Homo sapiens: one gene and its partners. The protein of the gene in region 3 purifies or fractionates together with the protein of the main gene of each other region. This does not show direct contact. Each region holds a gene or a part of one and is shown on either strand. Other genes may lie near its edges. The genes, in order: EMC8, FBXO11, MCM10, NCBP3, GINS1, MCM4 and MCMBP.

What was found.
Region 1: the proteins of MCM10 (region 3) and EMC8 purify together in Homo sapiens (affinity purification with mass spectrometry; one large-scale study listed by BioGRID and IntAct). This does not show direct contact.
Region 2: the proteins of MCM10 (region 3) and FBXO11 purify together in Homo sapiens (co-immunoprecipitation; one large-scale study listed by IntAct). This does not show direct contact.
Region 4: the proteins of MCM10 (region 3) and NCBP3 purify together in Homo sapiens (pull-down; one large-scale study listed by IntAct). This does not show direct contact.
Region 5: the proteins of MCM10 (region 3) and GINS1 purify together in Homo sapiens (co-immunoprecipitation; one study listed by IntAct). This does not show direct contact.
Region 6: the proteins of MCM10 (region 3) and MCM4 purify together in Homo sapiens (affinity purification with mass spectrometry; 3 studies listed by BioGRID and IntAct, with this or other methods). This does not show direct contact.
Region 7: the proteins of MCM10 (region 3) and MCMBP purify together in Homo sapiens (affinity purification with mass spectrometry; 3 studies listed by BioGRID and IntAct, with this or other methods). This does not show direct contact.

Annotation. Positions count from the first base shown.
Region 1 is NC_000016.10:85,782,545-85,786,044, forward strand, and holds part of EMC8 (ER membrane protein complex subunit 8), read right to left. Parts: intron 1-3,500. UniProt on the Homo sapiens protein: Part of the endoplasmic reticulum membrane protein complex (EMC) that enables the energy-independent insertion into endoplasmic reticulum membranes of newly synthesized membrane proteins.
Region 2 is NC_000002.12:47,826,164-47,830,422, forward strand, and holds part of FBXO11 (F-box only protein 11), read right to left. Parts: intron 1-4,259. UniProt on the Homo sapiens protein: Substrate recognition component of a SCF (SKP1-CUL1-F-box protein) E3 ubiquitin-protein ligase complex which mediates the ubiquitination and subsequent proteasomal degradation of target proteins, such as DTL/CDT2, BCL6, SNAI1 and PRDM1/BLIMP1.
Region 3 is NC_000010.11:13,192,337-13,196,595, forward strand, and holds part of MCM10 (protein MCM10 homolog), read left to right. Parts: coding exon 1-29; intron 30-114; coding exon 115-232; intron 233-2,704; coding exon 2,705-2,933; intron 2,934-4,259. UniProt on the Homo sapiens protein: Acts as a replication initiation factor that brings together the MCM2-7 helicase and the DNA polymerase alpha/primase complex in order to initiate DNA replication. Additionally, plays a role in preventing DNA damage during replication.
Region 4 is NC_000017.11:3,839,428-3,843,686, reverse strand, and holds part of NCBP3 (nuclear cap-binding protein subunit 3), read left to right. Parts: intron 1-535; coding exon 536-601; intron 602-3,481; coding exon 3,482-3,587; intron 3,588-4,259. UniProt on the Homo sapiens protein: Associates with NCBP1/CBP80 to form an alternative cap-binding complex (CBC) which plays a key role in mRNA export. NCBP3 serves as adapter protein linking the capped RNAs (m7GpppG-capped RNA) to NCBP1/CBP80.
Region 5 is NC_000020.11:25,413,861-25,418,119, forward strand, and holds part of GINS1 (DNA replication complex GINS protein PSF1), read left to right. Parts: intron 1-3,243; coding exon 3,244-3,342; intron 3,343-4,244; coding exon 4,245-4,259. UniProt on the Homo sapiens protein: Required for correct functioning of the GINS complex, a complex that plays an essential role in the initiation of DNA replication, and progression of DNA replication forks.
Region 6 is NC_000008.11:47,966,780-47,970,940, reverse strand, and holds part of MCM4 (DNA replication licensing factor MCM4), read right to left. Parts: intron 3,577-4,161; coding exon 3,456-3,576; intron 1,144-3,455; coding exon 884-1,143; intron 431-883; coding exon 65-430; intron 1-64. UniProt on the Homo sapiens protein: Acts as a component of the MCM2-7 complex (MCM complex) which is the replicative helicase essential for 'once per cell cycle' DNA replication initiation and elongation in eukaryotic cells.
Region 7 is NC_000010.11:119,837,873-119,842,131, reverse strand, and holds part of MCMBP (mini-chromosome maintenance complex-binding protein), read left to right. Parts: intron 1-1,171; coding exon 1,172-1,289; intron 1,290-3,431; coding exon 3,432-3,597; intron 3,598-4,259. UniProt on the Homo sapiens protein: Associated component of the MCM complex that acts as a regulator of DNA replication.

The DNA of each region.
Region 1 (3,500 bases), on a different chromosome or scaffold from region 3:
AAACAAAAGCATTGAACCGGTTCCCTCTAGCTGCTGTCCAGCTTCCCTCCTCCCTTCCATGACTGTTTCTTCAACTTCTTTAACAAGCCGCTAGTCTTGCTCCATGTCCTCACCACAGCTCTGTGCAATCTGCCATCTAACCCATTCCCTTGCAGAGCAGCACTCCGGAAGTCTCCTGACCACTGCCTGATGGCCCCAAGACTGCTACCCCCTCAAAAGCCTCCCAGCGGGAACCCACCACTCTCAGGCAGGCCAGTCCATTTCCAGCCTCTCCGACCTGAGGCCACCTTTCCCTCTGCTCTTCCCCACCCTGCAGGCCACAGGTCCTTTCTCTGCCCTCCTTTCCTGCATTCTCCCTGTCATTTATTTCCTTCAGTCTCTCACCTTAGGCAGGGGCTTCTAAAACTGCTTCCTAACCGGTCTCATAATTTCTACGGTCACTCGCTCGCTCTCTTTTTTAAAGAGACAGGGTCGGCTGGGTGCAGTGGCTCACGCCTGTAATCCCTGCACTTTCGGAGGCCGAGGCAGGTGGATCACCTGATGAGGTCAGGAGTTCGAGACCAGCCTGGCCAACATGGTGAAACCCTGTCTCTACTAAAAATATAAAAACTAGCTGGGTGTGGTGATGCACATCTGTAGACCCAGCTACTCCGGAGGCTGAGGCAGGAGAATCGCTTGAACCCGGGAGGCGGGGGTGGCAGTGAGCTGAGATCATGCCACTGTACTCCAGCCTGGGCAACAGTGAGACTCCACGTCAAAAAAAAAAGAGACAGAGTCTCGCTTCGTTGCCCAGGCTGGAGCATGGTGGCTATTCACAGGTGTGATCATGGCCACAAACTCCGGGTCTCAATCAATCCTTCCTGCTCAGCCTCACAAGCAGCTGGGACCACAGGCACGTGCTACGAAGCTCAGCTTAGGCTCTTCTTATCCGATGTAACCTGAAAATTCTCCTGAACTAAATTTTCCTAAAACAGAACTTCCATCACGTCCCCTGGTGCTCACAGCCCCACAGACTACTGCTCACCACTGCCTGCAAGATGAAGGCTGCTATTCTCAGGCTGGCAGAGGCAGGCCTTCGTTACGGTGAACTGAGCTACCGTGTGCAGCCACAGGGGCAATGCTGTGTCTTCAATGTCAGGAAATCTGCCTACATGTCATCTGCCTCACATGCCCGTCTTGTTTCACTCACACTGTCCCGTCTGGCCCTCCACACCAAGGCCTCCTTACTGAATTGCTTCCCCTCTTTCAGTGCCCAGAAGACATGCCACCCTCACCACAAAGCCCTGCTAAACCCTGGATGAGACCCCCTGCCCTGCTGGAGTTCTGAGGATTTATTTCTAAGAGGCTCTAACACAGAGTCCATGGCACGTGCTGCTTTCCTTCTGTGCATCCTGTCTGCCCTGCACAATCAAGGCTTTCAGCTTTTTGTGGCAGGGACCAAGCCATCCATCTTTCTTTTTTTTTCTTTTTTTGAGATGGAGTCTCACTCTGTCGCCTAGGCTGGAGTGCAGTGGCGCGATCTCGGCTCACTGCAAGCTCTGCCTCCCGGGTTCACGCCATTCTCCTGCCTCAGCCTCCCAAGTAGCTGGGACTACAGGCGCCCGCCACCACGCCCAGCTAATTTTTTGTATTTTTAGTAGAGATGGGGTTTCACCGTGTTAGCCAGGATGGTCTCGATCTCCTGACCTCGTGATCTGCCCGCGATGGCCTCCCAAAGTGCTGGGAATATAGGCGTGAGCCACCGCGCCTGGCCCCATCTTTCTTTTAACAGCCATAAAAATACATGCATTATTGTGAGTTATTTAACAAAGCACACTATATACAATTACAATCCTTCCCTTGTGATTAGGCTAAAAAAAATTAATAATGTTTTTAAAAAACAAATTATTTTATATGATTATTGTATTTTCGTTTTCAAAATTGACAAAGTGATGTACTGATTATAAATCTGCAGTATTAAGAAAAATATGACTTAAAAATGTGACTGTGTTAAGAAAAATATGACTTAAGAGGGAAGGGGAGGTTTTCAGGTAGAAGCCAATCGTACTGAAGAAAGCAGTGCGATGGTGGCTCCTAGCGCAGAGGGAAGGCAGTGCTTCACTGCACTGACCAGGACTCGGTGGGCGCCAGGTCCCCACAGCACTAACGGCAAGTGGTGAAGAGTGGGTACAGAGCCCTCAGGAGGCCTGCCCATGTACCCACCTCTGCCTGCTCCTGCATTTGCTGAGGAACTTGGAAAGCAAAAGGCAGGGCCGCTTGCCATGAAGAGCTTGCAAAGCCCTTACCCTCCTACTTAACACTGATCATGCTGGTTGTTGATTTTTATTGGGGAGAGGGTAAGGAAACACTCATTAAAAAGAAAAACTACCATTGCAGATGCTCAAGAACTCTTAACATCTGTCTTTCTATTCACTGATTTTTGAGATGGGGTCTTGCTCTGTTGCCCAGGCTGGAGTACAGTGGCGAGATCATGGCTCACTGCAGCCCCAACTGCCCAGGCTCAAGTGATCTCCCACCCCAGCCTCCCTTGTAGCTGGGACCACAGGCGTAGGCCACCATGTCCAGCTAATTTTTGTATTTTTTTGTAGAGATGAGGTCTTGCTATGTTGCCCAGACTGGTCTTGAACACCTGGCTCAAGAAATCCTCCTGCCTTGGCCTCTGAAAGTGCTGGGATTACAGGTGTGATCCAACATGGCTGGCCTAAAATTTATTATTTTAAAAGAAGTCTAAAAATTTGTAGTTGGCCGGGTGTGGTGGCTCATGCCTGTAATCCCAGCACTTTGGGAGGTTAAGGTGGGTGGATCACTTGAGGTCAGCAGTTCGAGACCAGCCTGGCCAACACGGTGAAACCCCGTCTCTACTAAAAATACAAAAATTAGCCAGGTGTGGTGGCAGGTGCCTGTAATTCCAGCTACTCAGGAGCCTGAGACAGCAGAATACTTTGAACCCAGGAGGTGGAGGTTGCATTGAGGCGAGATCGTGCCACTGCACTCCAGCCTGGGTGACAGAGTGAGACTCTGTCTGCTCTGCCACCGCCCCGCCAAAAAAAAAATGTGTAGTTAATGAACTGTCAAAGTATTTGAAACAGCTGCCAACTTTGCATTTCTCTGTCTTAGGCACTGAATCTCCAATACTGATCCACTTGATCCTGAATGAAGACTGCCACGCTGTGGTTCCTGCTAGTCAGGAACTCCTTGTTCCTAGGAAGAGCCAGCTGCCAACTGAAACTGCAGGCACCCTGAAGGCAGACCACTCTGCTCACCCTCAACAGCACCATGTCGGGCCAGCGTGTAGGTGCCATCTTACAATGTGTATCTAAAAGCTTCCTCCTGAGTGTCTGCCTCAGGCCAGGGCTCTCTGCCGGGCACCGAAACCTACTCATATCAAATGCTAACTATGAAGCAAAACACTGGCCAACAATGAATCATATAATAAAACTTGATGGAATGACCTAAAGTTTAGGAAATTCATAAAAGTTATAAACACTACGTTAGAACAG
Region 2 (4,259 bases), on a different chromosome or scaffold from region 3:
TTCTCCTGCCTTAGCCTCCCGAGTAGCTGGGACTACAGGTGCCGCCACCATGCCCAGCTAATTTTTTGTATTTTTAGTAGAGACAGGGTTTCACCATGTCAGCCAGGATGGTCTCGATCTCCTAACCTCGTGATCCACCCGCCTCGGCCTCCCAAAGTGCTGGGATTACAGGTGTGAGCCACCGCGCCCAGCTGATCCACAAGTTTTTTAAGGCAAATAGCAGCCCTCTCCCTCATTTCCTTTATCCAGAGGGCCCCACTTTTAATTCTTTTAGCTGATTCTTTTGATTCACATCTATTTTATTAAGTAACTCACTGTACTTAGTCTTCACTTTCCAGTTTTAGGTATTATCCACTGACTTCTATTATGGGACAGCAGAATTTAGCTCTCCTACCTCTCTATCCCCCACAATATATACTCACACATTGTATCCTTTCAGTGTAGTTTAACCTTAATTTTGGTTAGATTAGTGTGCTATTCAGAGTTGAGCCATAAAATATGACTTCTTTGCTGCACAATTTTTTGGATTTTTTTCTCCTTTGCTTAGCTTTCTAGTGACAACTCTATCCTAAACTTGTTGCTAGTTGTCCAAATCACCTCTTCTTTTTATTTATTTTTTTGACACAGAGTCTCACTCTGTTGCCCAGGATGGAGTGCAGTGGCCCAATCTTGGCTCACTGCAACCTCTGCCTCCCAAGTTCAAGCGATTCTCCTGCATCATCTCCTATAAATCACCTCTTAATACATTTACATTTACATTAGGTTTACCAATTTATCTTTCTGAACAGCTTTATTGGAGCTTTAACCTGCTCCAATCTGGTTGGCTGCCCTGGTCACAGGCATGCAGTCATTTACCACATTGTATTAATAAATTAGGTTAAGGATTAAATATGTCACCTAATTCCATCAAATATGGAGTTTATAATCTGTATCTTTTGTTTCAGAGTAACTTTCAAGAAAATAAAGCAGCAAAAAGTTTTCTTTTCTCAACGACCTTAAAATGAGAAGCCTCTACATTGGCACAACAATGATTTTACTACCTTTAGAAATGACAAAGATTGATTGACTTATAGTTTTATAATTTTGCAAGAAAACTTATTTTTATTATGGATTCAGTTAATGTAATTTTGCTTCAAGATTTTTTTGTTTGTTTGTTTTTGTTTTTGAGACAGAGTGTCTGTCGCCCAGGCTGGAGCGCAGTGGCGCACTTTCGGCTCACTGCAACCTCTACCTCCTGGGTTCAAGTGATTCTCCTGCCTCAGCCTCCCGAGGAGCTGGGACTTTTGGTGTGAGCCACCACGCCCAGCTAATTTTTGTATTTTTAGTAGAGATGGGGTTTCACTATGTTGGCCAGGATGGTCTGGAACTCCTGACCTCAAGTGATCTGCTCGCCTCGGCTTCCCGAAGTGCTGGGATTATAGGCATGAGCCACTGAACCCGGCCTGCTTCAAGACGTATTTTAATAGAATGCAACTATTTTGTTAAGCAATACCTCTAGTACAAAATAAATCAATAATACAGAACTGTAAGAAATTAGATTTTTTTTTTTTTTTGAGGTGGAGTTTCACTGTCTCCTAGGCTGGAGCGCAGTGGTATGATCTTGGTTCATTGCAACCTCCAAATCCCAGGTTCAAGCAATTTTCGTGCCTCAGCCTCCAAAGTAGCTGGGATTACAGGTGGGTGCCACCATGCCCAGCTAATTATTGTATTTTTAGTAGAGACGGGGTTTTGCCAAGTTAGCCAGGCTGGTCTCGAACTCCTGGCCTCAAGTGATCCACCTGCCTCAGCCTCCCAAAGTGCTGCGATTACAGAGCTACCAAGCCCGGCTGAAAAAAATTTTTTAAGAAGACGGGAATCTCCCTGTCACCCAAGCTGGAGCTATCACAGGTCATTACAACCTTGAACTTCTGGGCTCAATCAATCCTCTTGCCTCAGCCTTCCAAGTAGCTAGGATTATAGGCGTGTGCCACCATGCCCAGCTAATTTTTAGAATATTTCTTTAGTAGAGATAGGGTCTGTCTTGCTCAGGTTGATCTTGAACTCCTGGGTTCATGCAGTCCTCCTGCCTCAACCTCCCGAAGTGCTGGGATTACAGGTGTGAGCCACTGTGCCCAGCCTCTGCTTTGTCTTTTAATGCAAACCACAAAAGTTCCAACATGTATAAATTTTTTGAAGTAAAACATTCTTTATTAAATATGACAAAGTAGGCCAGGCGCGGTGGAGCTCTTGAAGTCAGGAGTTCTAGACCAGCCTGGCCAACATGGTAAAACCCTGTCTGTACTAAAAACACAAAAGTTAGCTGTGCGTGCTGGCAGGCATCTGTACTCCCACCTACTCGGGAGACTGAGACACAAGAATTGCTTGAAGCCTGGAAGGTGGAGGTTGCAGTGAGCCGCGATTGCACCACTGCACTCCAGCCTGGGTGACAGAGTGAGACTCTTGTCTCAAAAAAAAAAAAAAGACAAAATAAAAGGCATTCAAGAGTTTCACAAGAAACTCTCCAGATTAAAAAAGAGAGAAAAATGCTATCTTCATAGAAATAAACTTCCACAACTCTAATCTATAAAAACACTTACCAAATACTGTGAAATCTGGGTAAGAAAGAGGAGGGTGCTGGGAACTAACCAATGTTAGTACCTTAGACTTTCAATGAAGTGTAGTTGTCCCCAAGTAACTAAAGGCTATAATAAGCTTAGCTTATTATTATCTTCTAACTAAAGTGATGAAATCTAATGGCATGAATATGCCATGAATTTTTTTATTTTTTTGACAGAGTCTCACTCCTCTGTCGCCCAGGCTGGAGTGCAGTGGCATGATCTTGGGTCACTGCAACCTCCACCTCCCACCTCCCCACTTCAAGTGATTCTCATGCCTCAACCTCCTGAGAGGCTGGGATTACAGGCACACGCCACCACGAGGCAGTGTTTCGCAGTGTTGGCCAGGCTGGTCTTGAACTCCTGGGCTCAAGGGATCTGCCTACCTTGTCCTCCCAAAGTGTTAGGATTACAGGCGTGACCCACTGCACCCGGCCTCAAAAAATTTTATAGTTATTTGGCACTGCTATGACATTTTATTTATTTATTTATTTATTTTTTGAGACAGAGTCTTGCTCTGTCGCCCAGGCTGGAGTGCAGTGGCGCGATCTCGGCTCACTGCAACCTCTGCCTCCTGGATTCAAGCGATTCTCTTGCCTTAGCCTCTCGAGTAGCTGGGACTTGAGGCGTGCACCAACACACCCGGCTAATTTATGTATTTCTAGTAGAGACAGGGTTTCACCATGTTGGCCAGGCTGTTCTCGAATTCCTGACCTCAGGTGATCTGCCTGCTCGGCCTCCCAAAGTGCTAGGATTATAGGCATGAGCCACCACACCTGGCCTGCTATGACATTTTAATCTTATTTTACAAAAGTAACAACTCTGCACTGAACTGAGTATTAAACAAACAAAAGACAATTGGAGAACTGTGAACATTAAGAGAAAATTTGATGATATTAAGGAATTATTCCTAATTATTGAGGAGTGGATTAGCACTGTGGTTATGTGAAAGAAAAAAAAAACACCCATCTTTTAAAGACACATGGTAAAATATTTACAAGAGATGATGAAGTCTGGTATTTACTTCAAAATAATCCAGAGTGTAAAAAAGGTAGTAAAACGTATGAGGTATACATTAAACAAAATTGGCCATGAAATGATAGTTGTTGAAGGCAGACAATAGGTACCTGGAGAGTCATTACACTATTCTCTCTACTTCAGTGTACGTTAGAAATATTTCATTAAAAAAATGTAAAAATTAAAGGCAACACCCACACTGGAAGCAAAATAGCAGCAGAAAAACAAAACCACGGAGACATGGTAAGGAACACAGATTTGAGGAACTCACACAACACTAAACAGAACAGAACATAGCAATATAAATAACCAGAAAGATAGCTAAGTTTCTAAAGAAAGGAACATATGGAACAGAAAAATAGTAAAACAATACATCAGCAAAAGCCAAAATATGGATACTGAGGTAGAAGAGCAATCTTTCAAGCAAAGAAGAAAGAAAAAAACCCAATGTGATCTCAGAGTTCTCAGCCATGCTCAATGCTACAATAGAAAAATGTCTACAGAATCGTGAGGGAAAGAAAGAAACTCAGCTAAGTTAAAAGGCAATGGATAGGGATTCTCGCATGGCAAGAATTCAAGCTACAATATCCATAAGGCGTTCTTTAAAAAAAACAAACAAAAAATGGCTGGATGACAAAACCTAGCCAT
Region 3 (4,259 bases):
ACAACATTTAGCCAAAGCCACAGCTTCAGGTACCATCAGCTGCATGGCCACACGTGTGTCCCTGTGTTCCCTCAGCCTCCCAGGGCACCCCCTCAGTCTGGGCTTCTGTTTCAGGGATTATGGGGAGCCCAAAACCAGCCATCAAGTCCATCTCGGCCTCAGCACTCTTGAAGCAACAGAAGCAGCGGATGTTGGAGATGAGGAGAAGGAAATCAGAAGAAATACAGAAGCGGTAAGAGGAGCAGATTTAATATTCCCCGCTTGGGTCATCCATCTCAGGCGTCCTCAGAACGTCTTCATCGATTTCCAGAATGTGACTTCAGGTTTCGGTTGGCTGCGTTTTAACTCTGAAAGTTTAAAATAGTTTTCCCATAACCTGAATAGCATTTAAGGCTGTATTATTTCTTACACTGGTGACTCCCAACACCAAATGGTACAGGTTAGAGTCGTTATCACCATGGAAAAGGGAAAGGAGTGAAGTGTATGTAAAGAGGGTTTTTGTGAAGGGGGAGAGCGTAGGTTCACATGCTGGCTGTCATTTTCTCTCTCTCTCTCTTTTTTTTTTCTGAGACGGGTTTTCACTCTGTCACCCCAGCTGAAGTGCAATGCTGCAGTGTCGGCTCACTGCAACCTCCATGTCCCAGGCTCAAATGATCCTCCTGCCTTGGCCTCCCAAGTAGTTGGGACTACAGGCATGTGCCACTATGCTTGGCTAATTTTTGTATTTTTTTATAGAGACTGGGTTTTGCCATATTGCCCAAGCTGGTCTCAAATTCCTGGACGCAAGCCTGGATTTGCCTGGCTGCCATTTCTGGGTTTTGCCGCAATTCAGTTTTTTATGACAGGCAGAGCCAGTGAGTAGAATACAGTTCTTTGGATAAAGGACAAAACTGAAGCACTAAAAATGGAGAGTCATTTTAGAGGCAAAAGCAAGTGGAAATGTGTTACTTGGCTTCAGCCAATAATTAAAAAAAAAAAAAATCAAGTGGAAATGCATAGGGTAGGTGGACAAATGAATGATTCCTGAACTCAGGTCACCTGAATACTAATGAGAGCTGCGGTTCACAGGCACTTCATACGTACTCCATAAACACAGTATCTGAGCCTCCGGAGGCTTCTCAGCCTTGTTTTACTAATAGTGTGCCTGGAGATCAGAGAGCTAGTTTATGGTGGGGCCGAGTTTTGGGCTCACACATGTTGTGCTCTGGTGCTGAACCTTTTGCCATCCCGAATCTGGGCTGCTGAAAGGCAACCACATCCATGAAAGGGAGTCAATGATAAGACAAGAGGAAATTCTTTGGGAAAGTAAGAGAATGGGTTTGGTCTCAGGCAGATTAGTTTGAAGTGCCGGTGGGATATCTATAGAGCTATTCATCTTGAGCCTACAGATGACATAAATTATATACGTGGACACAGAAATATGTATGGAGTTGGGGGCCTCGTGGGAAATAGAGAATGCCCATCAGCTTGAAGGCATTGCGTAATGAAAATTTTCAGAATTTTGTTGGCCAAGGAAACCTTATCTTTGCGTAGGATTTGATAGGCAGTTTGCAAACACAGCCTAGAGCTTGCAAGAGTGGCTGTGCGGTTGGGAAGAGTACTGCTCTGGGATGGCCTGGCTCTAATCCTGAGTCTGGCCCTTGTGAGTAATGTGATCCTAGGCCTCAGTTTCTTCATCGATCAAATGAGAAGTTTGGACTAGATGATTTCTGGGGTTTGTTATTTGTTTTTAAATATCTCTTATGAGGCTGGCTTGGTGGCTTATGTCTGTAATCCTAGCACTTTGGGAGGCCGAGGCAGGCAGATCGCCTGAGCCCAGGAGTTTGAGACCAACCTGAGCAAAATGGCGAAATCCTGTCTCTACAAACAGTACAAAGATTAGCTGGGCATGGTGGTGCACACTGTGGACCCAGCTACTCGGGAGGCTGAGGTGGGAGGATCACCTGAGCCTGGGAGGCAGAGGTGGCAGCGAGCCGCAATCGTGCCAACGCACTCTAGTCTGGGTGACAAAGCAAGACCCTGTCTCCAAAAACAAAAGTAAAATAGCTCTTAAAACTATTTTTTGCCAGGCATGATAGCTCACGCCTATAATCCCAACACTTGGGAGGCTGAGGCACGAGAATCACTTGAACCTGGGAGGCAGAGGTTGCAGTGAGCCAAGATCATGCCACTGCACTCCAGCCTGGGTGACACAGCGAGACTCTGTCTCAAAAAAATCAAAAAAAAGAAAGGGGATGTAAAATAATCGCTGCAAGTTACAGTGTTTTTCATTAATGACTTCCAAATGTCTCACATGTATTGTCTCTTCCCAGTAGCATAAACAAAGATGCAGGGAGGTGCAATGAGTTCCTACAGGCCCTAGAGCTGACGGTAGGGGTGGGAATACAGTTCACACCGCGTCTTCAGCTGTGTTCCTTGTGGATGACATCCACTGGACAGCCAATTGATAAAAACAGTTATCAGTTCTAAAGTGTTAGGACAATTACAGCTTATTCAAAGAAAACTCAATTAAGGAGGAGTTAGTAAAGCTAGTATTGTTCTTATCGTGTGCAAATTTGAATTACCAGCCTAGAAGGGGACATTATTTTGCTAACAACTAGCTCCCAACTGGTGGCCTGCCTGCCGCCTCCCAGTCCACTTTGAGTTCTAGAGTTTTTATTTTCGTAAACCCTGTTTGCGTATTTTGACTGTATGTTCTTTAAAGATTTCTGCAGAGCTCAAGTGAAGTTGAGAGCCCAGCTGTGCCATCTTCATCAAGACAGCCCCCTGCTCAGCCTCCACGGACAGGATCCGAGTTCCCCAGGCTGGAGGGAGCCCCGGCCACAATGACGCCCAAGCTGGGGCGAGGTGTCTTGGAAGGAGATGATGTTCTCTTTTATGATGAGTCACCACCACCAAGACCAAAACTGAGTGCTTTAGCAGAAGCCAAAAAGGTAACTGGCATCTCTTCTCTTTAGCACTTGAGTTTGCATTCTGTAGAGCAGAGCTGGAGGAAAGACAGACACCTAATAGCTCTTTATTGATCGTGATCATTAGAGTCAGTGTAATTTGAAAACATGGTAGTGTCAACATAATACTAAAAGAAAGTTAGATCTGTTATCTCAACACTTTTTCTTGTCAGGCTACAAGAGGTAGCCTAGAGGAAGATAGTGTTTTATAACCAGAGGCATTGACAGTAGGAAAACAATGCTTGGAATTGTTGAGGTGAGACTGTAAAATGGTGGTTTAAGGAATCCTTTTTTTACGTTTATTTATTTATTTATTTATTTATTTATTTATTTATTTATTTTTTGAGAAGGAGTCTCACTCTGTCACCCAGACTGGAGTGCAGTGGCGCAATCTCGGCTCACTGCAACCTCCTCCTCCCAGATTCAAGCGATTGTCCTGCTTCAGCCTCCCGAGTACCTGGGACTACAGGCGCCTACCACCACGCCCGGCTAATTTTTAGTAGAGACATGGTTTCACCATGTTGGCCAGGCTGGTCTCGAACTCCTGACCTCAAATGATCTGTCCACCTCGGCCTCCCAAAGTACTAGGATTATAGGTGTGAGCCACCATGCCTGGCGGTTTTATTTTTTATTTGTTGAGACAGACTATCCCCCTGTCACCCATGCTAGAGTGCAGTGGTGCAATTATGGTTCACTGCAGCCTCAACCTCCCAGGATCGATTCATCCACCTGCCTCAGCCTCCCAAGTAGTAGCTGGGACTGCAGGCACATGCCACCACGCCTTGGCTAATTTTTGTATTTTTTGTAGAGATGGGGGCCTCCCTTTGCTGCCCAAGCTGGTCTTGCACTCCTGGACTCAAGCAGTCCCACCTCAGCCTCCCAAAGTGCTGGGACTACAGGCATGAGCCACTGTGCCTAACCAAGAATCCTTTAAAAGAAATCTTACACAAAAGTCCAGTCCCATGACAGGTGAAAGCTGAGTTGCTGCGGCTGAAGTAGGGGTAGGGCACCCAGAGCCCCACCTGCCCACTTCCTGAGTGCCCCAATCGAGCCTCTCTCTTCCCTTAAGTTAGCAGCTGCAGCCAAATGAAGGGCAAAGCTTGCTGTATGCCAAAACCTTACCTATAATAATAACAACAGGAATACCTACAATAACCATGGCACATGTCCATATTACTCAGTACTTGTGATATGTGTGTGCCATGTATTTACTATGTTTATTTATTTATTTATATATATATTTTTTGAGATGGAGTCTCGCTCTGTCACCCAGGCTGGAATACAGTAGTCCGATCTCGCCTCACTGCATCC
Region 4 (4,259 bases), on a different chromosome or scaffold from region 3:
TAATCCCAGCTACTCAGGAGGCTGAGACAGGAGAATCGCTTGAACCCAGGAGGTAGAGGTTGCAGTGAGCCGAGTTTGTGCCACTGCACTCCCGCCTAGGCGATAAGAGTGAGACTCCATCTCAAAAAACAAACAGAAAAACAGAAAGAACCAGACTGGTTGTGATGACTCACACATGTGATCCTAACACTTTGGGAGACTGAGGCAGGAGGACTGCTTTAGCCCAGGAGTTGGTGACCAGCCTGGGCAACATAGGGAGACCCTGTCTCTACAAAATAAAAAAAAAATTAGCTGGGCATGGTGGCATATGCCTGAGGGCCCAGCTGAGGGGGAGGATGGCGTGAGCCTGGGGAGTCGAGGCTGCGGTGAGCTGTGATCATTCTACTGCACTCCGGCCTGGGCAACAGAGCAAGACACTGTCACCAACAAAAAAAAAAAAAAAAGGAAAAAAGAACCTGCAGATGTCAGGCCGACTTTTATTATAGGTTTTTCCTCAATTGCTGTCTGAATTTCTCACCCTTCCCCTTTGTGTTAGGACACGAGCAGAAGATATGAAAACAAGGCTGGCAGCTTCATCACTGGAATTGATGTCACCTCCAAGGTAAGACAGGCTATGATTTATTTATTCAGCTTGATAAGCAAGTGAACTTAATGAATTTGATCCCTAGGACATAACAGTAAATATTTCCTCTTTTATTTTGTTGCTGGATTTAAATTTTTTTTCTAAAAAAAATTGTGTTATTGGCCAGGCACGCTGGCTCATGCCTGTAATCCTAGCATTTTGAGAGGCCAAGCAAGTGGATCGTTTAAGCCCAGGAGTTCGAGACCAGCCTGGGCAACATAGTGAGACCCGTCTCTACGAAAGATACAAAAATTAGTCGGGTGTGGTAGCACAGGTCTGTAGTCCCAACTACTCAAGAGGCTGAGGTGGGAGGATCGCTGGAGCCTGAGAGGTTGAGGCTGCACTGAGCTGAAATCGTGCCACTGCACTCCAGTGGGGGCAACAAAAAAAAATTTTGTGTTATACAACGATGTCTTCATGCATCCTGAAACGGTACAGGCAGCATTTGTGTGTTCTTACAGCCATGAAAGGATAAAATCACTCTACTTAGATACCTGTGTTGAACCGTTTCCAAGAAAATGTCCAAGACGGGGGATGCTTTTTTAAATGGTATGTCCATTTCTAAAAAAATGTGTACTGTTTCCACTTGAAATGAAACAAAACATGAAAAGTGCCTGGCAGATGGTAGGCCCCCCATATTTAGGTGGAGTCTCGCTCCGTTGCCCAGGCTGGAGTGCAGTGGTGCGATCTCGGCTCACTGCAGCCTCCACCTCCTGGGTTCCAGCGATTCTTCTGCCTCAGCCTCCTGAGTAGGTAGGACTACAGGCGCCCGCCACCACGCCTGGCTAATTTTTGTAATTTTAGTAGAGACAGGGTTTCATTGTATTGGTCAGGCTGGTCTTGAATTCCTGACTTCAGGTGATCCACCTGCCTCAGCCTCCCGAAGTGCTGGGATTCCAGGTGTAAGCCACCGTGTCGGCATAATAGGCCCTTAATAAGACTATTGCCTTGTATCTGATGATTGCTATTACCAGATTACCACCTTCATTGTAACACCTCATAGAGTCAAGCCTATTATTTTCCTTATATGTAGTCAATACATGTAAGTTGCTTTAATCAGTGATGTTCCGTTTTAGACATTTTTTCTGATTTTAATGTTTACAGTTAAGTTTGGAACAGAATTTTGTATTACATTTCTGAATAATAGTATATATTGCTGTATTGAATACATAAAAGCAAAAATAAAAATATATTTCGTGCCTTCCTTTTTATAGTGTTTTTTTTTTTTTTTTGAGACAGAGTCTCACTCTGTCACCCAGGCTGGAGTTCAGGGGTGCGATCACGGCTCACTGCAACCTCTGCCTCCTGGATTCAATTGATCCCTCTGCCTCAGCCTCCCGAGTAGCTGGGACTACAGGTGGATGCTATCATGCCCAGCTAACCTTTTTATGGTTTATCTGTGTCTCTTGTGTTTCCAATCACTTAAAGGCCCCCCATCCCCGCAAAAAAAAAAAAAAAAAAAGAGAGAGAATTGGTCATCTTTTAGACAAGAAAAGAGAATAAAGTGAAAATCTTTTCTTACTGTAATTGAAAAAGTAAACTATTCATAATCTTACACTGTTTGCCATTATATGACACAGGTATATGGGAAAAGGGTGATAGTCTCAGAGTTAGTACTTTGTTTCTAAAGGAAGGTAAATTGTTGTTTGTACTAGGAAGACTTCAGTGAAGAAAATGAGCGTTAACTATTGGGAAAGAACAGAAGTGTTGCAACTTTACCAATCCCCACAAGCTCTCTGTAGTCAGACCTTCAATTAGTGTGGCAAAGTCAATATACAATTAGTGAAGGGGACTGGGCGCGGTGGCTCACATCTGTAATCCTGGCACTTTGGGAGGCCGAGGCAGGCAGATCACGAGGTCAAGAGATCGAGACCATCCTGGCCAACATGGTGAAACCCCGTCTCTACTAAAAATACAAAAATTAGCTGGGCGTGGTGGTGTGCACCTGCAGTCCCAGCTACTCAGGAGGCTAAGGCAGGAGAATCTCTTGAACCCGGGAGGCGGAGGTTGCTGTGAGCTGAGATCGTGGCAGCCTGGCGACAGAGTGAGAGTCCGTCTCAAAAACAAAAACAAACAAAACCAATTAGTGAAGGGTTCCTAAGAGCCATCAGAAACCCACAGTTGGACCTGGGTTTATTTTAGCTCTTAGAAGAAACTTACAAAGCTGATTATTTTTTCAGTAAAGTGTCAATGGTTCTTATCACTTAGAGATGAAAACTGGTGATTCCGTGGACACGAGGCTGGAAGAGGAGGGAGAGTTTCTTTGCTTCGGTGTTATTTTTAAACAGACTAGCTTTAGGGAGTGGACTGCTCAGGCAGTTATAATGTGGAAGAGCGTGATAGGTGTGATTACCATTGCTCAGACAATGTGAAGTGGTTGTAGGTGGGCTCCTAGAAATAGCACTGGAATCAGATCTGCTTGCTTAATAGCTGAAGTATCTCCAGCAAACCTTTTTGCTTTTTTGTGCCTCCATTTCTGCACCTGGAAAATTGGGATGTTGAAATTGTTTAGTTGTAATTTGTTGGCATAATTGATAATAACAAATGAAGTGTCATATAACTTTATAAACTTTAAAGGACTATTCATTCAGTCAGCAGATACTCACTGAGTTCCTACTATGTCCCAGGCACAGTGATAGGCTGTGTTATGTCGGAGATGGTTGCAAATTACAGCGATATTAACATATCCCCCCAGTCATTGAGTGTGAATATCCAGGTCTCTGCCAGACTGATTCAAGGTGTAGTGTTGCTTATTTCTTCTTTTTTAGTTCAGGTTTGTCACTGATGCATCATGATGCATGTGTGATTTAACTCGCCTTCTCCATATTTTACTACTTTCACTTTTTCTGTACTTTCTAGGAAGCAATTGAAAAGAAAGAGCAGCGAGCCAAGCGCTTCCATTTTCGATCGGAAGTAAATCTTGCCCAAAGAAATGTAGCCTTGGACCGAGACATGATGAAGAAAGGTACAGGGTGTTTTGTGGGAAATTTGTCCACATTTCCCCAGAGAGTGCCTTTTCCCTGCCATCACCTCATGCTTCTGGCCTTGCCTTGCGTGTCCACTCCTTATCCAAGCACTCTTGTGAGAAGGGACCTGTGAAGTCTCCATTTCTGAGGTCACCTGTTTAAAGTTCAGATGCTGTCAGCTGGCTCAGATGTTAGAGCTGGGAAATAAGAGATTGTCTTTTCTGAGGAGGCCCAGAAAAAGTTACCAGTTAGTGGCAGAGCTGAGATTCGAACCTGTGCTTCTAAGGACCCTTACTCATTTTCTCCTTTTATCGTAGAGGTGTTAACTTTTCTTTGCCTTTAAACGTAGTGAAAGTGTATCACAGTGAGACCTTCTTTTCGGGGAGTTAGAGCAATTTTGAGATTGGTGGGGAAAAGCCATTAACACTTTTGTTGATAATCTGAATCTATTGGCCAGGTGTGGTGGCTCATGCCTGTAATCCCAGCACTTTGGGAGGCCAAGGCAGGTGGATCACTTGAGGTCAGGAGTTTGAGACCAACCTGGCCAACATGGTGAAACCCCATCTCTACTAAAACTACAAAAATCAGCTGGGAGTGATGGCTGGCGCCTGTAATCTCAGCTACTCGGGAGGCTGAGGCGTGAGAATCGCTTGAACCTGGGAGGCAGAGGT
Region 5 (4,259 bases), on a different chromosome or scaffold from region 3:
TTCATAAGATGATATTCTAAAACAATTCAATAATTAAGATGTTGAAATTGGCCGGGCGCGGTGGCTCACGCCTGTAATCCCAGCACTTTGGGAGGCTGAGGCGGGCGGATTACGAGGTCAGGAGTTTGAGATCAGCTTGGCCAACATGGTGAAACCTTGTCTCTACTAAAAATACAAAAATTAACCGGGTGTGGTAGTGGGTGCCTGTAATCCCAGCTACTCAGGAGGCTGAGGCAGGAGAACTGTTTGTACCCGGGAGGTGGAGGTTGCAGTGAGCTGAGATTGCACCACTTCACTCCAGCCTGGCGATAGGGCAAGACTCTGTCTCCAAAAAAAAAAAAAAAAAAAAAAAGATGTTGAAATCAGATAACCTTGCATTAGTTTTGGGATGCGATTTTTAAAAATTATCTGTAAAATTATCTGCTCTAGCTGTACAAATTAGCAAAAGTCTGAAGAAATTTGTGCTGATCACTGCTTAATAAATATCTGTTGTTTGGCTGATAAGAGTTGAAAGGAATTAGAGTGGACCTAAAATAAATGACATACCCTAAAATAAAAAATAAAAATAGGCTGGACACGGTGGCTCATGGCTATAAATCCCTGTGCTTTGGGAGGCCAAGGCAAAAGGATCAGTTGAGGCCAGGAGCCTGGACATATAGCAGGACTCTGTCTCTATTAAAAAAATAAAAATTAGCTGGGTGTGGTGGCACACACCTGGAGTCTTAGCTACTCAGCAGGGTAAGGTGAGAGGCTTGCTTGAGTGCAGGGGTTTGAGGCTGCAGTGAGCTATGATCACGTTACTGCACCCTAGCCTGGGTGACAGAAGGAGATCTCCATCTTTAAAAATAATAAATAAAAATAAAAACCTAACAAAGTGAAATACATGGTTCCCACTGTTTATATTTTTATCAACAGTTGCCTTAGTGAGTTTGTTAAAGGAAGAATAGGCAGTTTATTAAATGGATATAAATAGGAGCAGCAGTGATTTCTGATAGTTTGAGTGGAGTTCTCTGAGAACTAGCTATAAAAGGTTTCAGTGTAGTAGGTCCAGAGAGGTGACTAGATTTATTGACTCTTTAGAACTGAGCATGGTAGCTGGCACAGTGGAGAATTTGGGCGTATGACAAACTTCGTATGTTCCTGTGCGACACCAAAGGGAGTCAAGTACTGGATCAAAGTTGAAGTATTCAGGGTCTCAACTGTCTGTGACATGAGGTTTCCTCTTTGGGCTTGTTCGCTACAGTGTTTTTATCAGTTACTTGAATATAGAAATCAGTGTTATGGCTGGTAAGATTTGTGAGGCACATAAAATGATAGGAGCATTTCCAACTCCTGTGTATAAGGAGAGATACAGAAAAATCTTTACAGGTGGACTGAGGAAGTGAACCTCAACAGATTTGCAGTAAATATAAGGCAGATTTAAAGTCCTGAACTCAAGTCCCTAAGCCATTCATTGATTTACTCAAATATGTACTAAACAAATATGTATCAATAAGTGGCTGTGCTATTTCAGTGGTAAACAACAGTCAAGATGGCTTTCCCGGGCTGGGCACAGTGTGGCCCATGCCTGTAGTCCCAGCACTTTGGGAGGCCGAGGCGGGTGGATCATCTGAGGTCAGGAGCTCGAGACCAGCCTGACCAACATGGTGAAACCCTGTCTACGAAAAATACAAAATTAGCCATGCGTGGTGGCGCATGCCTGTAATCCCAGCTACTCCGGAGGTTGAGGCAGGAGAATCGCTTGAACCTGGGAGGCGGAGGTTGTGGTGAGTCGAGATCGCGTCATTGCACTCCAGCTTGGGCAACAATAGCGAAACTCCATCTCAAAAAAAAAAAAAAAAAAAAGATGCCTGTCCCTGGCGCTCACTGTCTAGTGCAGAAGACAGACATGAAATATAGATATGCCAAATTGGGATTCATGCTATGAAGGAAATCAGAAGAGTGCAAGGAGAAAGAAAAATGAATAGAAGGTCTAGCTTAAATTGAGGAATCAGGGAACTTCTCTCCAAAGAGGAGACATTTCAGCTGAGGCCTGCAGGAGATGCAAGTCTTAGGGAGGCAGTGACTGTGGGCATAGAACATTCTAGGTGGAGGGAACAGCATATGCAAAAGCCCCTGAATCATGGAAGAGAATGGGGCACTCAAGAAACTGACACTTAAAGAAGACCTATGTGGCTGGAGTTTGGCAAGTGGCAAAGGATGACACCAGATGAGGTGTAAGTGTGGACAGGTGGTGGTGTGTTTGTGTCTTAAAAGATAATGCTGGTTGCTGTGTGGAGGGGCTGAGAGGTGGGGGAAGCTGGTCACCAGGTTACTAGAGAGGTGACCCAGACTTGGTAGAAAGTGAGAAGGTTATAAATGTTTTGGAGGAGACCCTATAGGCCTTGGTTCAGTAAGGGAATGATTTTCTTGTATTCTCTGTGTTTATGCCATTCGCAAATTCATGATCCAAAATTCTTTATTCCACCTTCCTAGTTTCATCAGACTTTCATAGGGTGGCAGAAGTATATAGAACAGCCCTAGAAGACATGACAGGATGGGACATGTATTTTGCCTGTATTATCAGGGCCTAGCACAGTGCCTGGCATAGAGGCAGGCACTACATGAATGAATTCTTTTTATATGCATATGGTTGCTTAAAAACTCCAAAGTAGATTCTTATTCATTCAAAAGTTACATGTACTTTTTATAGGGTAAAACCAAAATTTTCAGTGTGAGAAATACTGAAGTATAGTACGTACACGTATTTGGAGATCAACAGATATTTGTAAGATGAGTGAAAGACCATTTTGACTCCATTTTACCTCACTTTGTTATAATGAGGATTTGGAAGCTCCACTGGAAGGGAGGTACTATGTAGAATAGCGACATGACGTAAGACCATAACCTCATGTCCATCATGTTAGCTTTGTCTCTTATCTCAGCGTGATAATGGAATCCTGAAAAGTGAATAACACAGTGTCTTTTAGAAAGAATAGAGATTAATCAGTGTGCAAAAATGCAAAGTACCAAATGCCTAAACAAAATGTATCTGGTAGCATGATCTTAGGCAAGTTGTTTAGGTTTTGGCTTTTTAACATATTAATAAAAGCTCTGATGTACAAATAGTTATTATTTGCTTAGGTTAACTGCTAATCACAAATGGATTAAAAACAAGCATGTAACTCAGTTGTTAGTTGGCTTTGAAAATTTTACTTATCCTGAAAAGTACATATTTTTTTTCTTTTTAAATGCTCCTATCAGGAATGAAGCAAAGTCAGGTGGACGAAGTGATTTGATACCAACTATCAAATTTCGACACTGTTCTCTGTTAAGAAATCGACGCTGCACTGTAGCATACCTGTAAGCTTCTCAGTTTTTGCTTGGGGTGGCAGGATTTTCTGTGTGGCTTCCCAGTTGACCATCTCAAATGGGTAACATGAAATCTTAGATCTCTCTCTCTTTGTAAGCATTCTAAATTTTTCCTCTGTGTTTTCATTTTTTTAATTTTTTATTATGAAAAATCACAACACTTTTAAAAGTAGGGAGAATAATACTATAATGAACCCCAGTGGAGCTATCATATGGTTTTAACAATTTTTATTATTTTGCCATATTTTTTTCATCGTGTTTCACTTGTTGGTGCCACACTATTTAAGTGCATCACGGTCTTTCACTACTGAATACGGTAGTGTTCTTACTATTTTTTCTTTGTCTTAGAAATAAGGACCTTTGGCCAGGCACAGTGGCTCATGCCTATAATCCCAGCAATTTTGGAGGCCAAGGCGGGTGGATCATCTGGGATCAGGAGTTCGAGACCAGCCTGGCCAACATGGTGAAACCCTGTCTCTACTAAAAATACAAAAATTAGCTGGGAGTGGTAGCGGGTGCCTAATCTCAGCTACTTGGGAGGCTGAGGCAGGAGAATTGCTTGAATCTGGGAGCCAGAGGTTGTAGTGAACGGAGATCGTGCCATTGCACTCCAGGCTGGGTGACAAGAGCAAAACTCTGTCTCAAACAAAAAAAGGCGGGGGAAAGAAAGAAATAAGGACCTTAGGGACCTTTTTCCCAGGACTACTGTGCTGCTGTCACACGTGGAGGAGTGGACAGTGCCTTCAGGTCGACTCTCAGACTGTGTTCATGTTCTTCTTGTTTTCCCTAAGATGTCTGTTTAGAGCTGGTGTGTTTGCATCAGGGGCCAAATGAAGTCCACACGTGATCCCCCGTTTATTCTTATGCCACCCAATACCTTCTTGATGTCCTAGGTATGACCGCTTGCT
Region 6 (4,161 bases), on a different chromosome or scaffold from region 3:
CCTGTCTTTCAAGGGTCCACATATTTTAAACACGTCCATGTTCACGGTGGAGAAGGCGACTCACCTTTGCAATGGACAGAGTCTGCTGTTCCATGACTTCATGCAATACCGATCTTGTACTTTCATTCATCTTGTCGAACTCATCGATACAGCAGATGCCGTTGTCACTCAGGACAAGAGCACCTGTCTGCAGGACCAGCTGCCTTGTCTCAGGGTCTTTCATTACGTACGCAGTGAGGCCAACTGCACTGGAGCCCTTCCCAGACGTGTACTGGCCCCTGGGGACGAGGTTGTACACGTACTGCAGCAGCTGGGACTTGCTGGTACCAGGGTCGCCACACAGCAAGATGTTGATCTCAGCCCGAAATTTGCCCCTTCCAGTGTGACTAAAATCCTTCCTTGTCCCGCCAAAGAGCTGAAGCAAAATTCCCTAAATAATCAGAGACATGTCTAAACATTCATTTTCTGCACAGTTAACTGAGATGTAGTTTAAACTTTAGAGGTACTTTTCTCTCTTATAAAGAACTACAATTAAGAAATCACAGGAAGGTATAAAAAGGCTCGTGAAAGTGCTTGATATGCTTTAAGTTATCACTGACCAGTTCATCAGCACCTATCATTACACCAGAATGGTGGCCATGCAAGTCCCTATTCTGACACTGTGTGGCCTCTTCTGTTTAGAAACCTAAGTTTAGACCAGAGATGAGGATAGACAATGCTATGATTCTTCTCAACCAATGGCAAGTCAGGTTGCCAGCACTTGCTCTAACAGGCCACAACTCTGTCCTTTATGGCGGATGGCTCGAGTGGCGGAGTGGATGTTTATACTATTTGATCCCAAAGAATTGTAAATCCCAACCCCTAGTTTAAAATCCACTGTTACCTTCTTTATATCTTCATGTTCATAAATGCTTGGAGCCAAGGCTGAAGCAAGCCTCTCATAAATGTCTGGTTTCCTGGAAAGTTCCTTAAGCAATTCCACACGTTTCTCTGAAAAAAGTTTCTGTTCTGCTTCTTCATCAAGGCCATGCAGACGTTTTGCATCCGTTTTCCGATAATGAATGACATCAATGTGGGTTTTGTAGACAGACTTCACATTACTCACTCTTGGATTGACTCGAATAGGCACAGCTCGATAGATGCCTGAGGGCACAACCAGGAGATGCACTTTTACCTTCCCATATCTTCCTCCGAGTGGCTCAGCAACCAGCGTAGGCAACAGGTGCACTTCAGAGCGAGGCACCACGTCGGGCTGGCCCTGGAAAGGGTGAGCTCCACCGTCTCTTAAATGACCCTCCCAAGCCCAGGACTCAGGCCCACATTGCAAAGCTCCCGCTTGCTATGAGCAAGCAGGGAAATAGCAGCAGGAAACGGACAAGCTCGAAAGAACCAAGGTGGCTCATGTCTGTAATCCTAGCACTTTGGGAGGCTGAGGCAGGCGGATCACCTGAGGTTGGGAGTTCGAGACCACCCTAATCAACAAGGAGAACCCTGTCTCTACTAAAAATACAAAAATTAGCCGGGCGTGGTGGCACATGCCTGTAATCCCAGCTACTCGGGAGGCTGAGGCAGGAGAATGGCTTGAACCTGGGAGGCGGAGGTTGCGGTGAGCCAAGATGGTGCCATTGGACTCCAGCCTGGGTGACGAGAGCAAAACTCCGTCTCAAAAACAAAACAAAACAAAATGAAACAAAACAAAACAAAACAAAACAAAAGAGAAAGAACCCAGGTTTCTGCAAATGATAGACCCGAGGACGTGTTCACCTGGGCCCACTAGTCAGCAGTGCTCCAGGGCAACTGTAGCTACGTGAGCATGCCCACGGGCACAGTCACCCTGAGGGTGAAATGGAGCTGCTGTGCTTCTAGCTCAATGCTGGGTTCGTGGTTGTTTTTAATAAGCAGTATTTTTACTTCCCTAAGTTGAGTGTACAGAATCTGCCTAGCACTTACTTGACTGCAACAAAATGCTAAAATCCTCCAGTCATTAAAACTAGACTAGGTCCCCCCAACCTACCCACCACCCCCGACAAAAGCATGCAAATCATGCATTCTTCTGGAAGCCAGGCTCCTCACATACAGAGGTCTGATCTGATGTTCGTCTTTTCTGGATTTCAAACCAGAAGGCTTTAACTCCAGGCTGATTCCTGCAGCTTTTGGAGAAAGCCTGGCCTTTCCCCGTTACAGCTATCTCAACGCAATGGCACAGAGCACTGTCCTTGTTTATTCAGTGGGTCAGTGTAATTCTTGTTTAACACAACAAACCAGTTTACACACATTCTTAGAATACACACTATTCTTCACTCCAATATAGGCTAGGGATGGAAGATTATGTTTAAAGTGGCCCGGAATGATTTATCTCACAGAGCAGCATTGATACTTATTTCACATCTACACAGCACTTTCCACAGCCCCTTGGCCCCAAACACTCTCACACATGTATCATCACATTAACTCCACTTTGTAGGTGAGGAAACAAAAATATTGGACTAAATACTTTATCAAAGGTTTCAGGGTAGCAGGACTGGAAATGCGCACGTCACTCACTAAAAACTACGCATTCTTTCAAATTCTCCATGACTTCAAGTACTTTTACGACGGAAGATTGCCAGTGATAACTGCGGGACTTCACACTGGGGAAGAAACAGGGTGAGCACTGCCTCACTGAAGACAAGAGCCGATGCGTGGTGTGCCCCAGGCCCTCCGCTCAGGAGCAGATTCAGGCACTCCGCGACCGTCGCCACCTTGCCCATCAATGAAGAACCGTGCTGCCATCAACACTCCCTTGCCCCCAACCAAAATCCATTGTGACTCTACAGCATCAAAAGGAGGACTGCCACACTCATATGGTGCTGTGCAAAGAGCACTCTTGTGGCAGCAAGAGAAGGAGACCTGGGTCCTGGGTTCTGATTTACCGTGGCATCTGAGCTACTGCTGTCTATGCATCCCTGAACCTCAGCTTCTACACATGGAAACAAGTCACTGACTCATTTTTCTCTGTAACAAACAAATGTTAACCCTTGGCTATACATTTGGGAAATTAAGTAAAAATTACTTAAAACTCCAGCATTGGTGAGTAATACTTCTCTGAGCTGATGGCATAACTCAAAACTTTACCCATACAAGCCTGTCTGAGGCTGCTCTCTCATGATGCCAACAGTACTGACTTGAGACACACACAGCTCCAGGATACTGAGGTATCAAGAGGCGAGTGACCACACGAACCATGAGCTCCAACATTCAAGTTTGGGAAGAACTGAACAATTTCATACTGCTGGGCCATGGTACTCAGTTAAAAAGGTGGCAGATAAAGCAGGGATATACCCCACAGTCTCAAAGACAAGCAGTGACAACTGGAGGTAGAACTGGACCTGTGACCAAGTCCAATGACTCACTAAAGCACAGCATTGAAAGCAAGCCAGACATGCTCAAGTGCTGGTGCAAACCTACACTCTTACCTGTAACATTCACTCTGTCCCCAGGCTGGACCTTGTCAACGAGATCATTGTGAGCAAACAGGATAACTGTGTGTGGTGTCTGCCCTGCAGGCATGTCTTCCGGAGACTCCTGAAGCTTGATCTGAAGGTCAGCAAACAGAGAACATGTGGGCCACAAAGAGAGGGCAGGGGGACAAAATCTGCATGTCTTTGTACTGCTTTTGCCATATAAGGCTGCAGTGCATATCCCCACATAAATGATTGTCCATGTTTCTCATTATTTCCTTAGAAATTACTTCTTCTAAAGAAGTTGCTGCAACAGACAGCAACAAAACAGGGGAAGGAATGTAGGGAGCTGCGGTGGGGGAAGCTGAGATGCTTTTCATAAAGCAGGGTCGAGGAAGGCCTTTCCAAACCAGGTACCCTCTGAGAGGCCTAAGGATGCTGGGCTTTTCTCTAAGCCACTTTGGGGGCCTGCATGATTCTGAGAATAGGAGGCCATGTGCTCCTGCGGAGCAGGGTGCCTGCCTTTCTGTCTCCAGCTCTCCATCCCATGCAACATTAAAGAAACCATGCACACGCAGTCACAGAAAAACTCAAATCCTGTCCTCCCACATCTTTACAGTCACAATCACGGTAAATAAGCAATTTTCTACCTTCCCCTCACTTTTTTCTGTCATTTTAATAACTTCATCTTAAAATTTCATGAATATAGAGAAAAAAGACC
Region 7 (4,259 bases), about 110 Mb from region 3:
CAGGCATTAGTTAGATTCTCATAGGGAACACACAGATGTGCAGTTCACAATAGGGTTCGCGCTCCTGTGAGAGTCTGATGCCACTGCTGATCTGACAGGAGGCGGAACTCAGGCGGTAATGCCCACTCATCCACCCCTCACCTCCTATGTTGTGGCCCGGTTCCTAACAGGCCATGAACCAGTACTGGTCCACGGCCTGGGCGTTGGGGACCCCTGAGATAAAGGACCTGGCTGATGAGTAAAATGAGCTGTTTTATCCCTTTTGCATTCTGAACGCTCTGTTTATACATCCCAAGGCGCCCACGTCATGTGCACGTTTAACGTGGACATTGACACTAGCACCGCATCCCTTGACTCCACTGTATTTCTTTGTTTCTCATTTTAAAACTAGTGTGGGCCTTTGACAAGTTCCAAGAACATAAGGAGGAAAATGCACATCATCTGTAATTTCACCACTTAGAACCTCCGTTAACCTTTAGGTACATGTTCATTGGTTTTTGTTTACATATGTATACATCCTTGCATAGGTCTTAGTTACACTCTAAGCACAGATGCGTGTCTTGTTTTCAGCAGTTGATATATATTAAACATTTTCCCATCATAATGCTTCATGAACTTTGTAGTGGCTGCAAAGTATTTCACTATGCAGTTGTACCATACTGTAACCATTTCCCTAAATGTTAGCTTTTCCTAGCTTTTCTCTATTATAAAGTTGCAGGAAACATCTTTGTGCTGTAAATCTTATCTTTTCTCAAATCAGTCTGTGACAGTAGTACATAATGGTTGAGAGCACAGGCTCTGGAACCAAACTACCCGGATTCATATCCCAGCTCTGTCAGCTTCCATTTAGATGAACATGTTGCTTATTATCATCTCTGTGCCTCGGATTTCTCATCTGTGAAGCAAAGACAACAGCACCTACCGCTGAATGGTTAGGGGTTAAATGAGGAAGCATTTACATACTCAGAACGGTCTTTGGCACGTGACCAGCAGCACTTACGTACAAATATTGGCTATTACTTTTATTGCTGTTATTCTGATAAAATAACTGGTCAGAATATTCTGGTTTATTTTTAATGACAATATTAAGCTAATTTTTCTATTCTTCGCTATTTGATAGAAATCAGGAAGTCACTTCAGCATCTTATTGATTGATTTCTTTCTTTTCTAGATATACAAGAAGAGATGTCCTTCCACTAGGAAAATTTACAGTTAACTTGAGTGGTTGCCCACGGAATAGTACCTTCACAGAACACTTGTATCGAATTATTCAACATCTTGTTCCAGCAGTAAGATGAATATAAATATGTATTATAAACCTAAGCACACTTAAAAAATCCATCTAACTGTCTTTCATTCACTTCAAATATTTAACTTAGAGATTTTAATAGATCTTATTTAAGGGGAAACAAAGCCTGCCAAATTACATAATTTAAAATGTACGTTCCCCTAAACATTTCACTTTTTTTTGTCTTTTTGCCTAAGCACAAATTTCTGTAAGTCTAACAAAACAATTGTAGTAACTCCCTTAAAATTACACTCTCTTGATACCAATTTGTCCAATTTGGTATCCTTTTTGTACACTAAAGTCTTAAATCTAAATAAACTCTAAATTGTAGGAGCATAATTCTTTTAGTTGAGGTAATAAAGTTCTTTATCTCCATTGCCTCAATTTTAATTCCTGTTTGGAAAGTTGAGCTCACTTTATTTGCCAGGGTATCTGGAATGCAGTATTTGCGTGGTGGTAGGATCTTGGGAACAGGGGAATTGCTTCTGATTAGTTGTGTGACTGAAAATACTGATCACTTCTTTGGAAATTGAAGAGGGTGCACTAGATCTTTATTGAACCGAATGTATTCAGTGTCTCAGTGCTAACACTCGTCCAGGCCCTCAAGAAGCAGAAGTGGACTGGAATATACCAGCAGTTCTCAGTCTCCTTAGACTCACTTTACACTCTGAAAAATGTGTTCATACTCAAAGAGCTGTTTTTCACGTTATGATTATATTTATCATTAATTTACCAAACTAGAAGATAAAGTAAATACACCTATTAAAAATAAAAAATTACATATAAATATTTTTATAAAAACAACTTTTCCCAAGCCAAAAATGATTAGTGATAAAGGTGACATTGTTTTACATTCTTGCAAATCTCTTCAATGTCTGGATTAATAGGAGACAATGGATGCTTGTATCTGCTTCTGCCTTCAGTCTATTGTAGTCTCAGGTTTTGGTTGAAGTATATGAAGGAAAGCTGGCCTCACACAGATGGAAAAGTAGATGGTAAAGGAAGGATGGTTTCGATAGCCTTTGCAGATAACTGGGTGGTGGTCTTTGATACTAGACCAAAACTGTCCACATGAGATTTTCTTAAAGATAGTTAAGTGTGGAATCTGAAATCCTATTCGTAAACTTTCCATAGTCTGCTATGGTAAAATTCATTAGTCTCGCACATTGAAAGGATCTTTTATCCATGCATGATTTTGACCTGATTGACCCTGTAAAAGGGTTTAAGCAATTCCCTGGGGGTTCTCGGGACCACATTTTGAGAATTATTGAAACAGATCCTTTGCCCTCACAGAGTTTAGGTAGAAGACCAACAAATAAATTAATACATGGTAGGTCATTTAAGCACCCCTAAGCTCCCCGTTTTCTTAGAATCACTGAGGTAATACACAAAACTCCTCTAAATTTTCGCAATATATCTTACCTCTTCCTTGACAGCCTTCCCCCACCATACCCTCTTCTCCATCCCTGCCACATTGTTTGAGGCTGGAGGGATGGAAGAATGGATTGGTGTATAAGGCAGAGCACAGAGGGTGTTGGGAATGGTGGCTCAAGAGCTGGAGGAGGAGCATAGATGGTTCGCTTACTCGTTAAACACTGAGTGAGAAGGTGCTCGCGTCCTGGAGGCACCTCCTGAGAGCTGCAGGTCCATCCACAGCTCAGTGTGCTCTGCTCCTTGATTTTTCTCTGAAAAGTTTGTTCAAAAATGTCTATGATAAATGAATACAATTTTAACTCAAAGAATATAGAGGAAAATTAAGCTTTTCTCTCCCTGTCTTGAAGAGTAAAATTAACATTTTCTTTTTGCTAGCTAGCTTGTGTTAGGTGAAAGAGGTTAGGTTTTGGGGTATTTAATATTTATATGTCAGTTATCTACCATTTGTTTCATTGGTTAAATTAAAATTGATTTTCAAGAATATTGAACAAGACATTTGAGAATAAAGTAGCTCATAAAATGGATGAAATTCAAATGTAAGATCTAGATACTATTTTTGCTTCTGGAGTTCAAGAAACCATATCACTACTCCCTTAGAAATTTATAAGATCACTTTTTCCATATGAAACACAATGTTTAATTCCAAGTACATATTTTCTTAAAACAGGGAAACTTAAATTCTTGTTCACTAAAAAATTTCTCTTTGCAGTCTTTTCGTCTGCAGATGACTATAGAGAACATGAACCATTTGAAATTCATTCCCCACAAAGACTACACAGCCAATCGCTTGGTCAGTGGGCTCCTCCAGCTGCCCAGCAATACTTCCCTTGTAATCGATGAGACTCTCCTGGAACAGGGGCAGCTGGATACCCCAGGTACGTACATAGATGTTTCTCTTCCATTTCTGACTTCCTTCGCACTAAAGCCAGATCTAGGAATAACTTTTAGAAGAGTATCTATGGACAAATTCACATTTAACAACGTAAGATAAAGGCTTGGCATATGAATTTGATTAAAGCATATGTTATAAACTAATTATATACACCAACTATGTTTTGCCATAGTATTCTGAAAGTAGTACAATGGAACAGATATATATCTTATATAATATATCTTATATAATATATATCATATATAATATATAATGTCTCATTTAATATATATCATATATTATATATTTTATATATTATATAATGGAGCAATAATATAAAGGGTAGTATTAGTATAATGGAGCAGTAATATAAAGGGTAGTATTAGATGTTGAGGGTCGTAAGGGTTCTTTGGTGAAAAGTTTTATTGTGTCAGCGAATGGTTGGAGCAGTCTTTATGGGCCTACAGTGTTGGGTTCTTTTGCGTAGTTGTATATAACCTAAAATTTTTTTTTCAGTGAGTGTAAGGAATGGTAGAGACAGGGTCTCGCTATGTTGCCCAGCTGATCTTGAATTCCTGGGCTCAAGTGATCCTCCTGCCTTGGCCTCCCACAGTGCTGGGATTACAGGTGTGAGCCACTGCACCTGCCCCAAATAGCTTTTTAAAA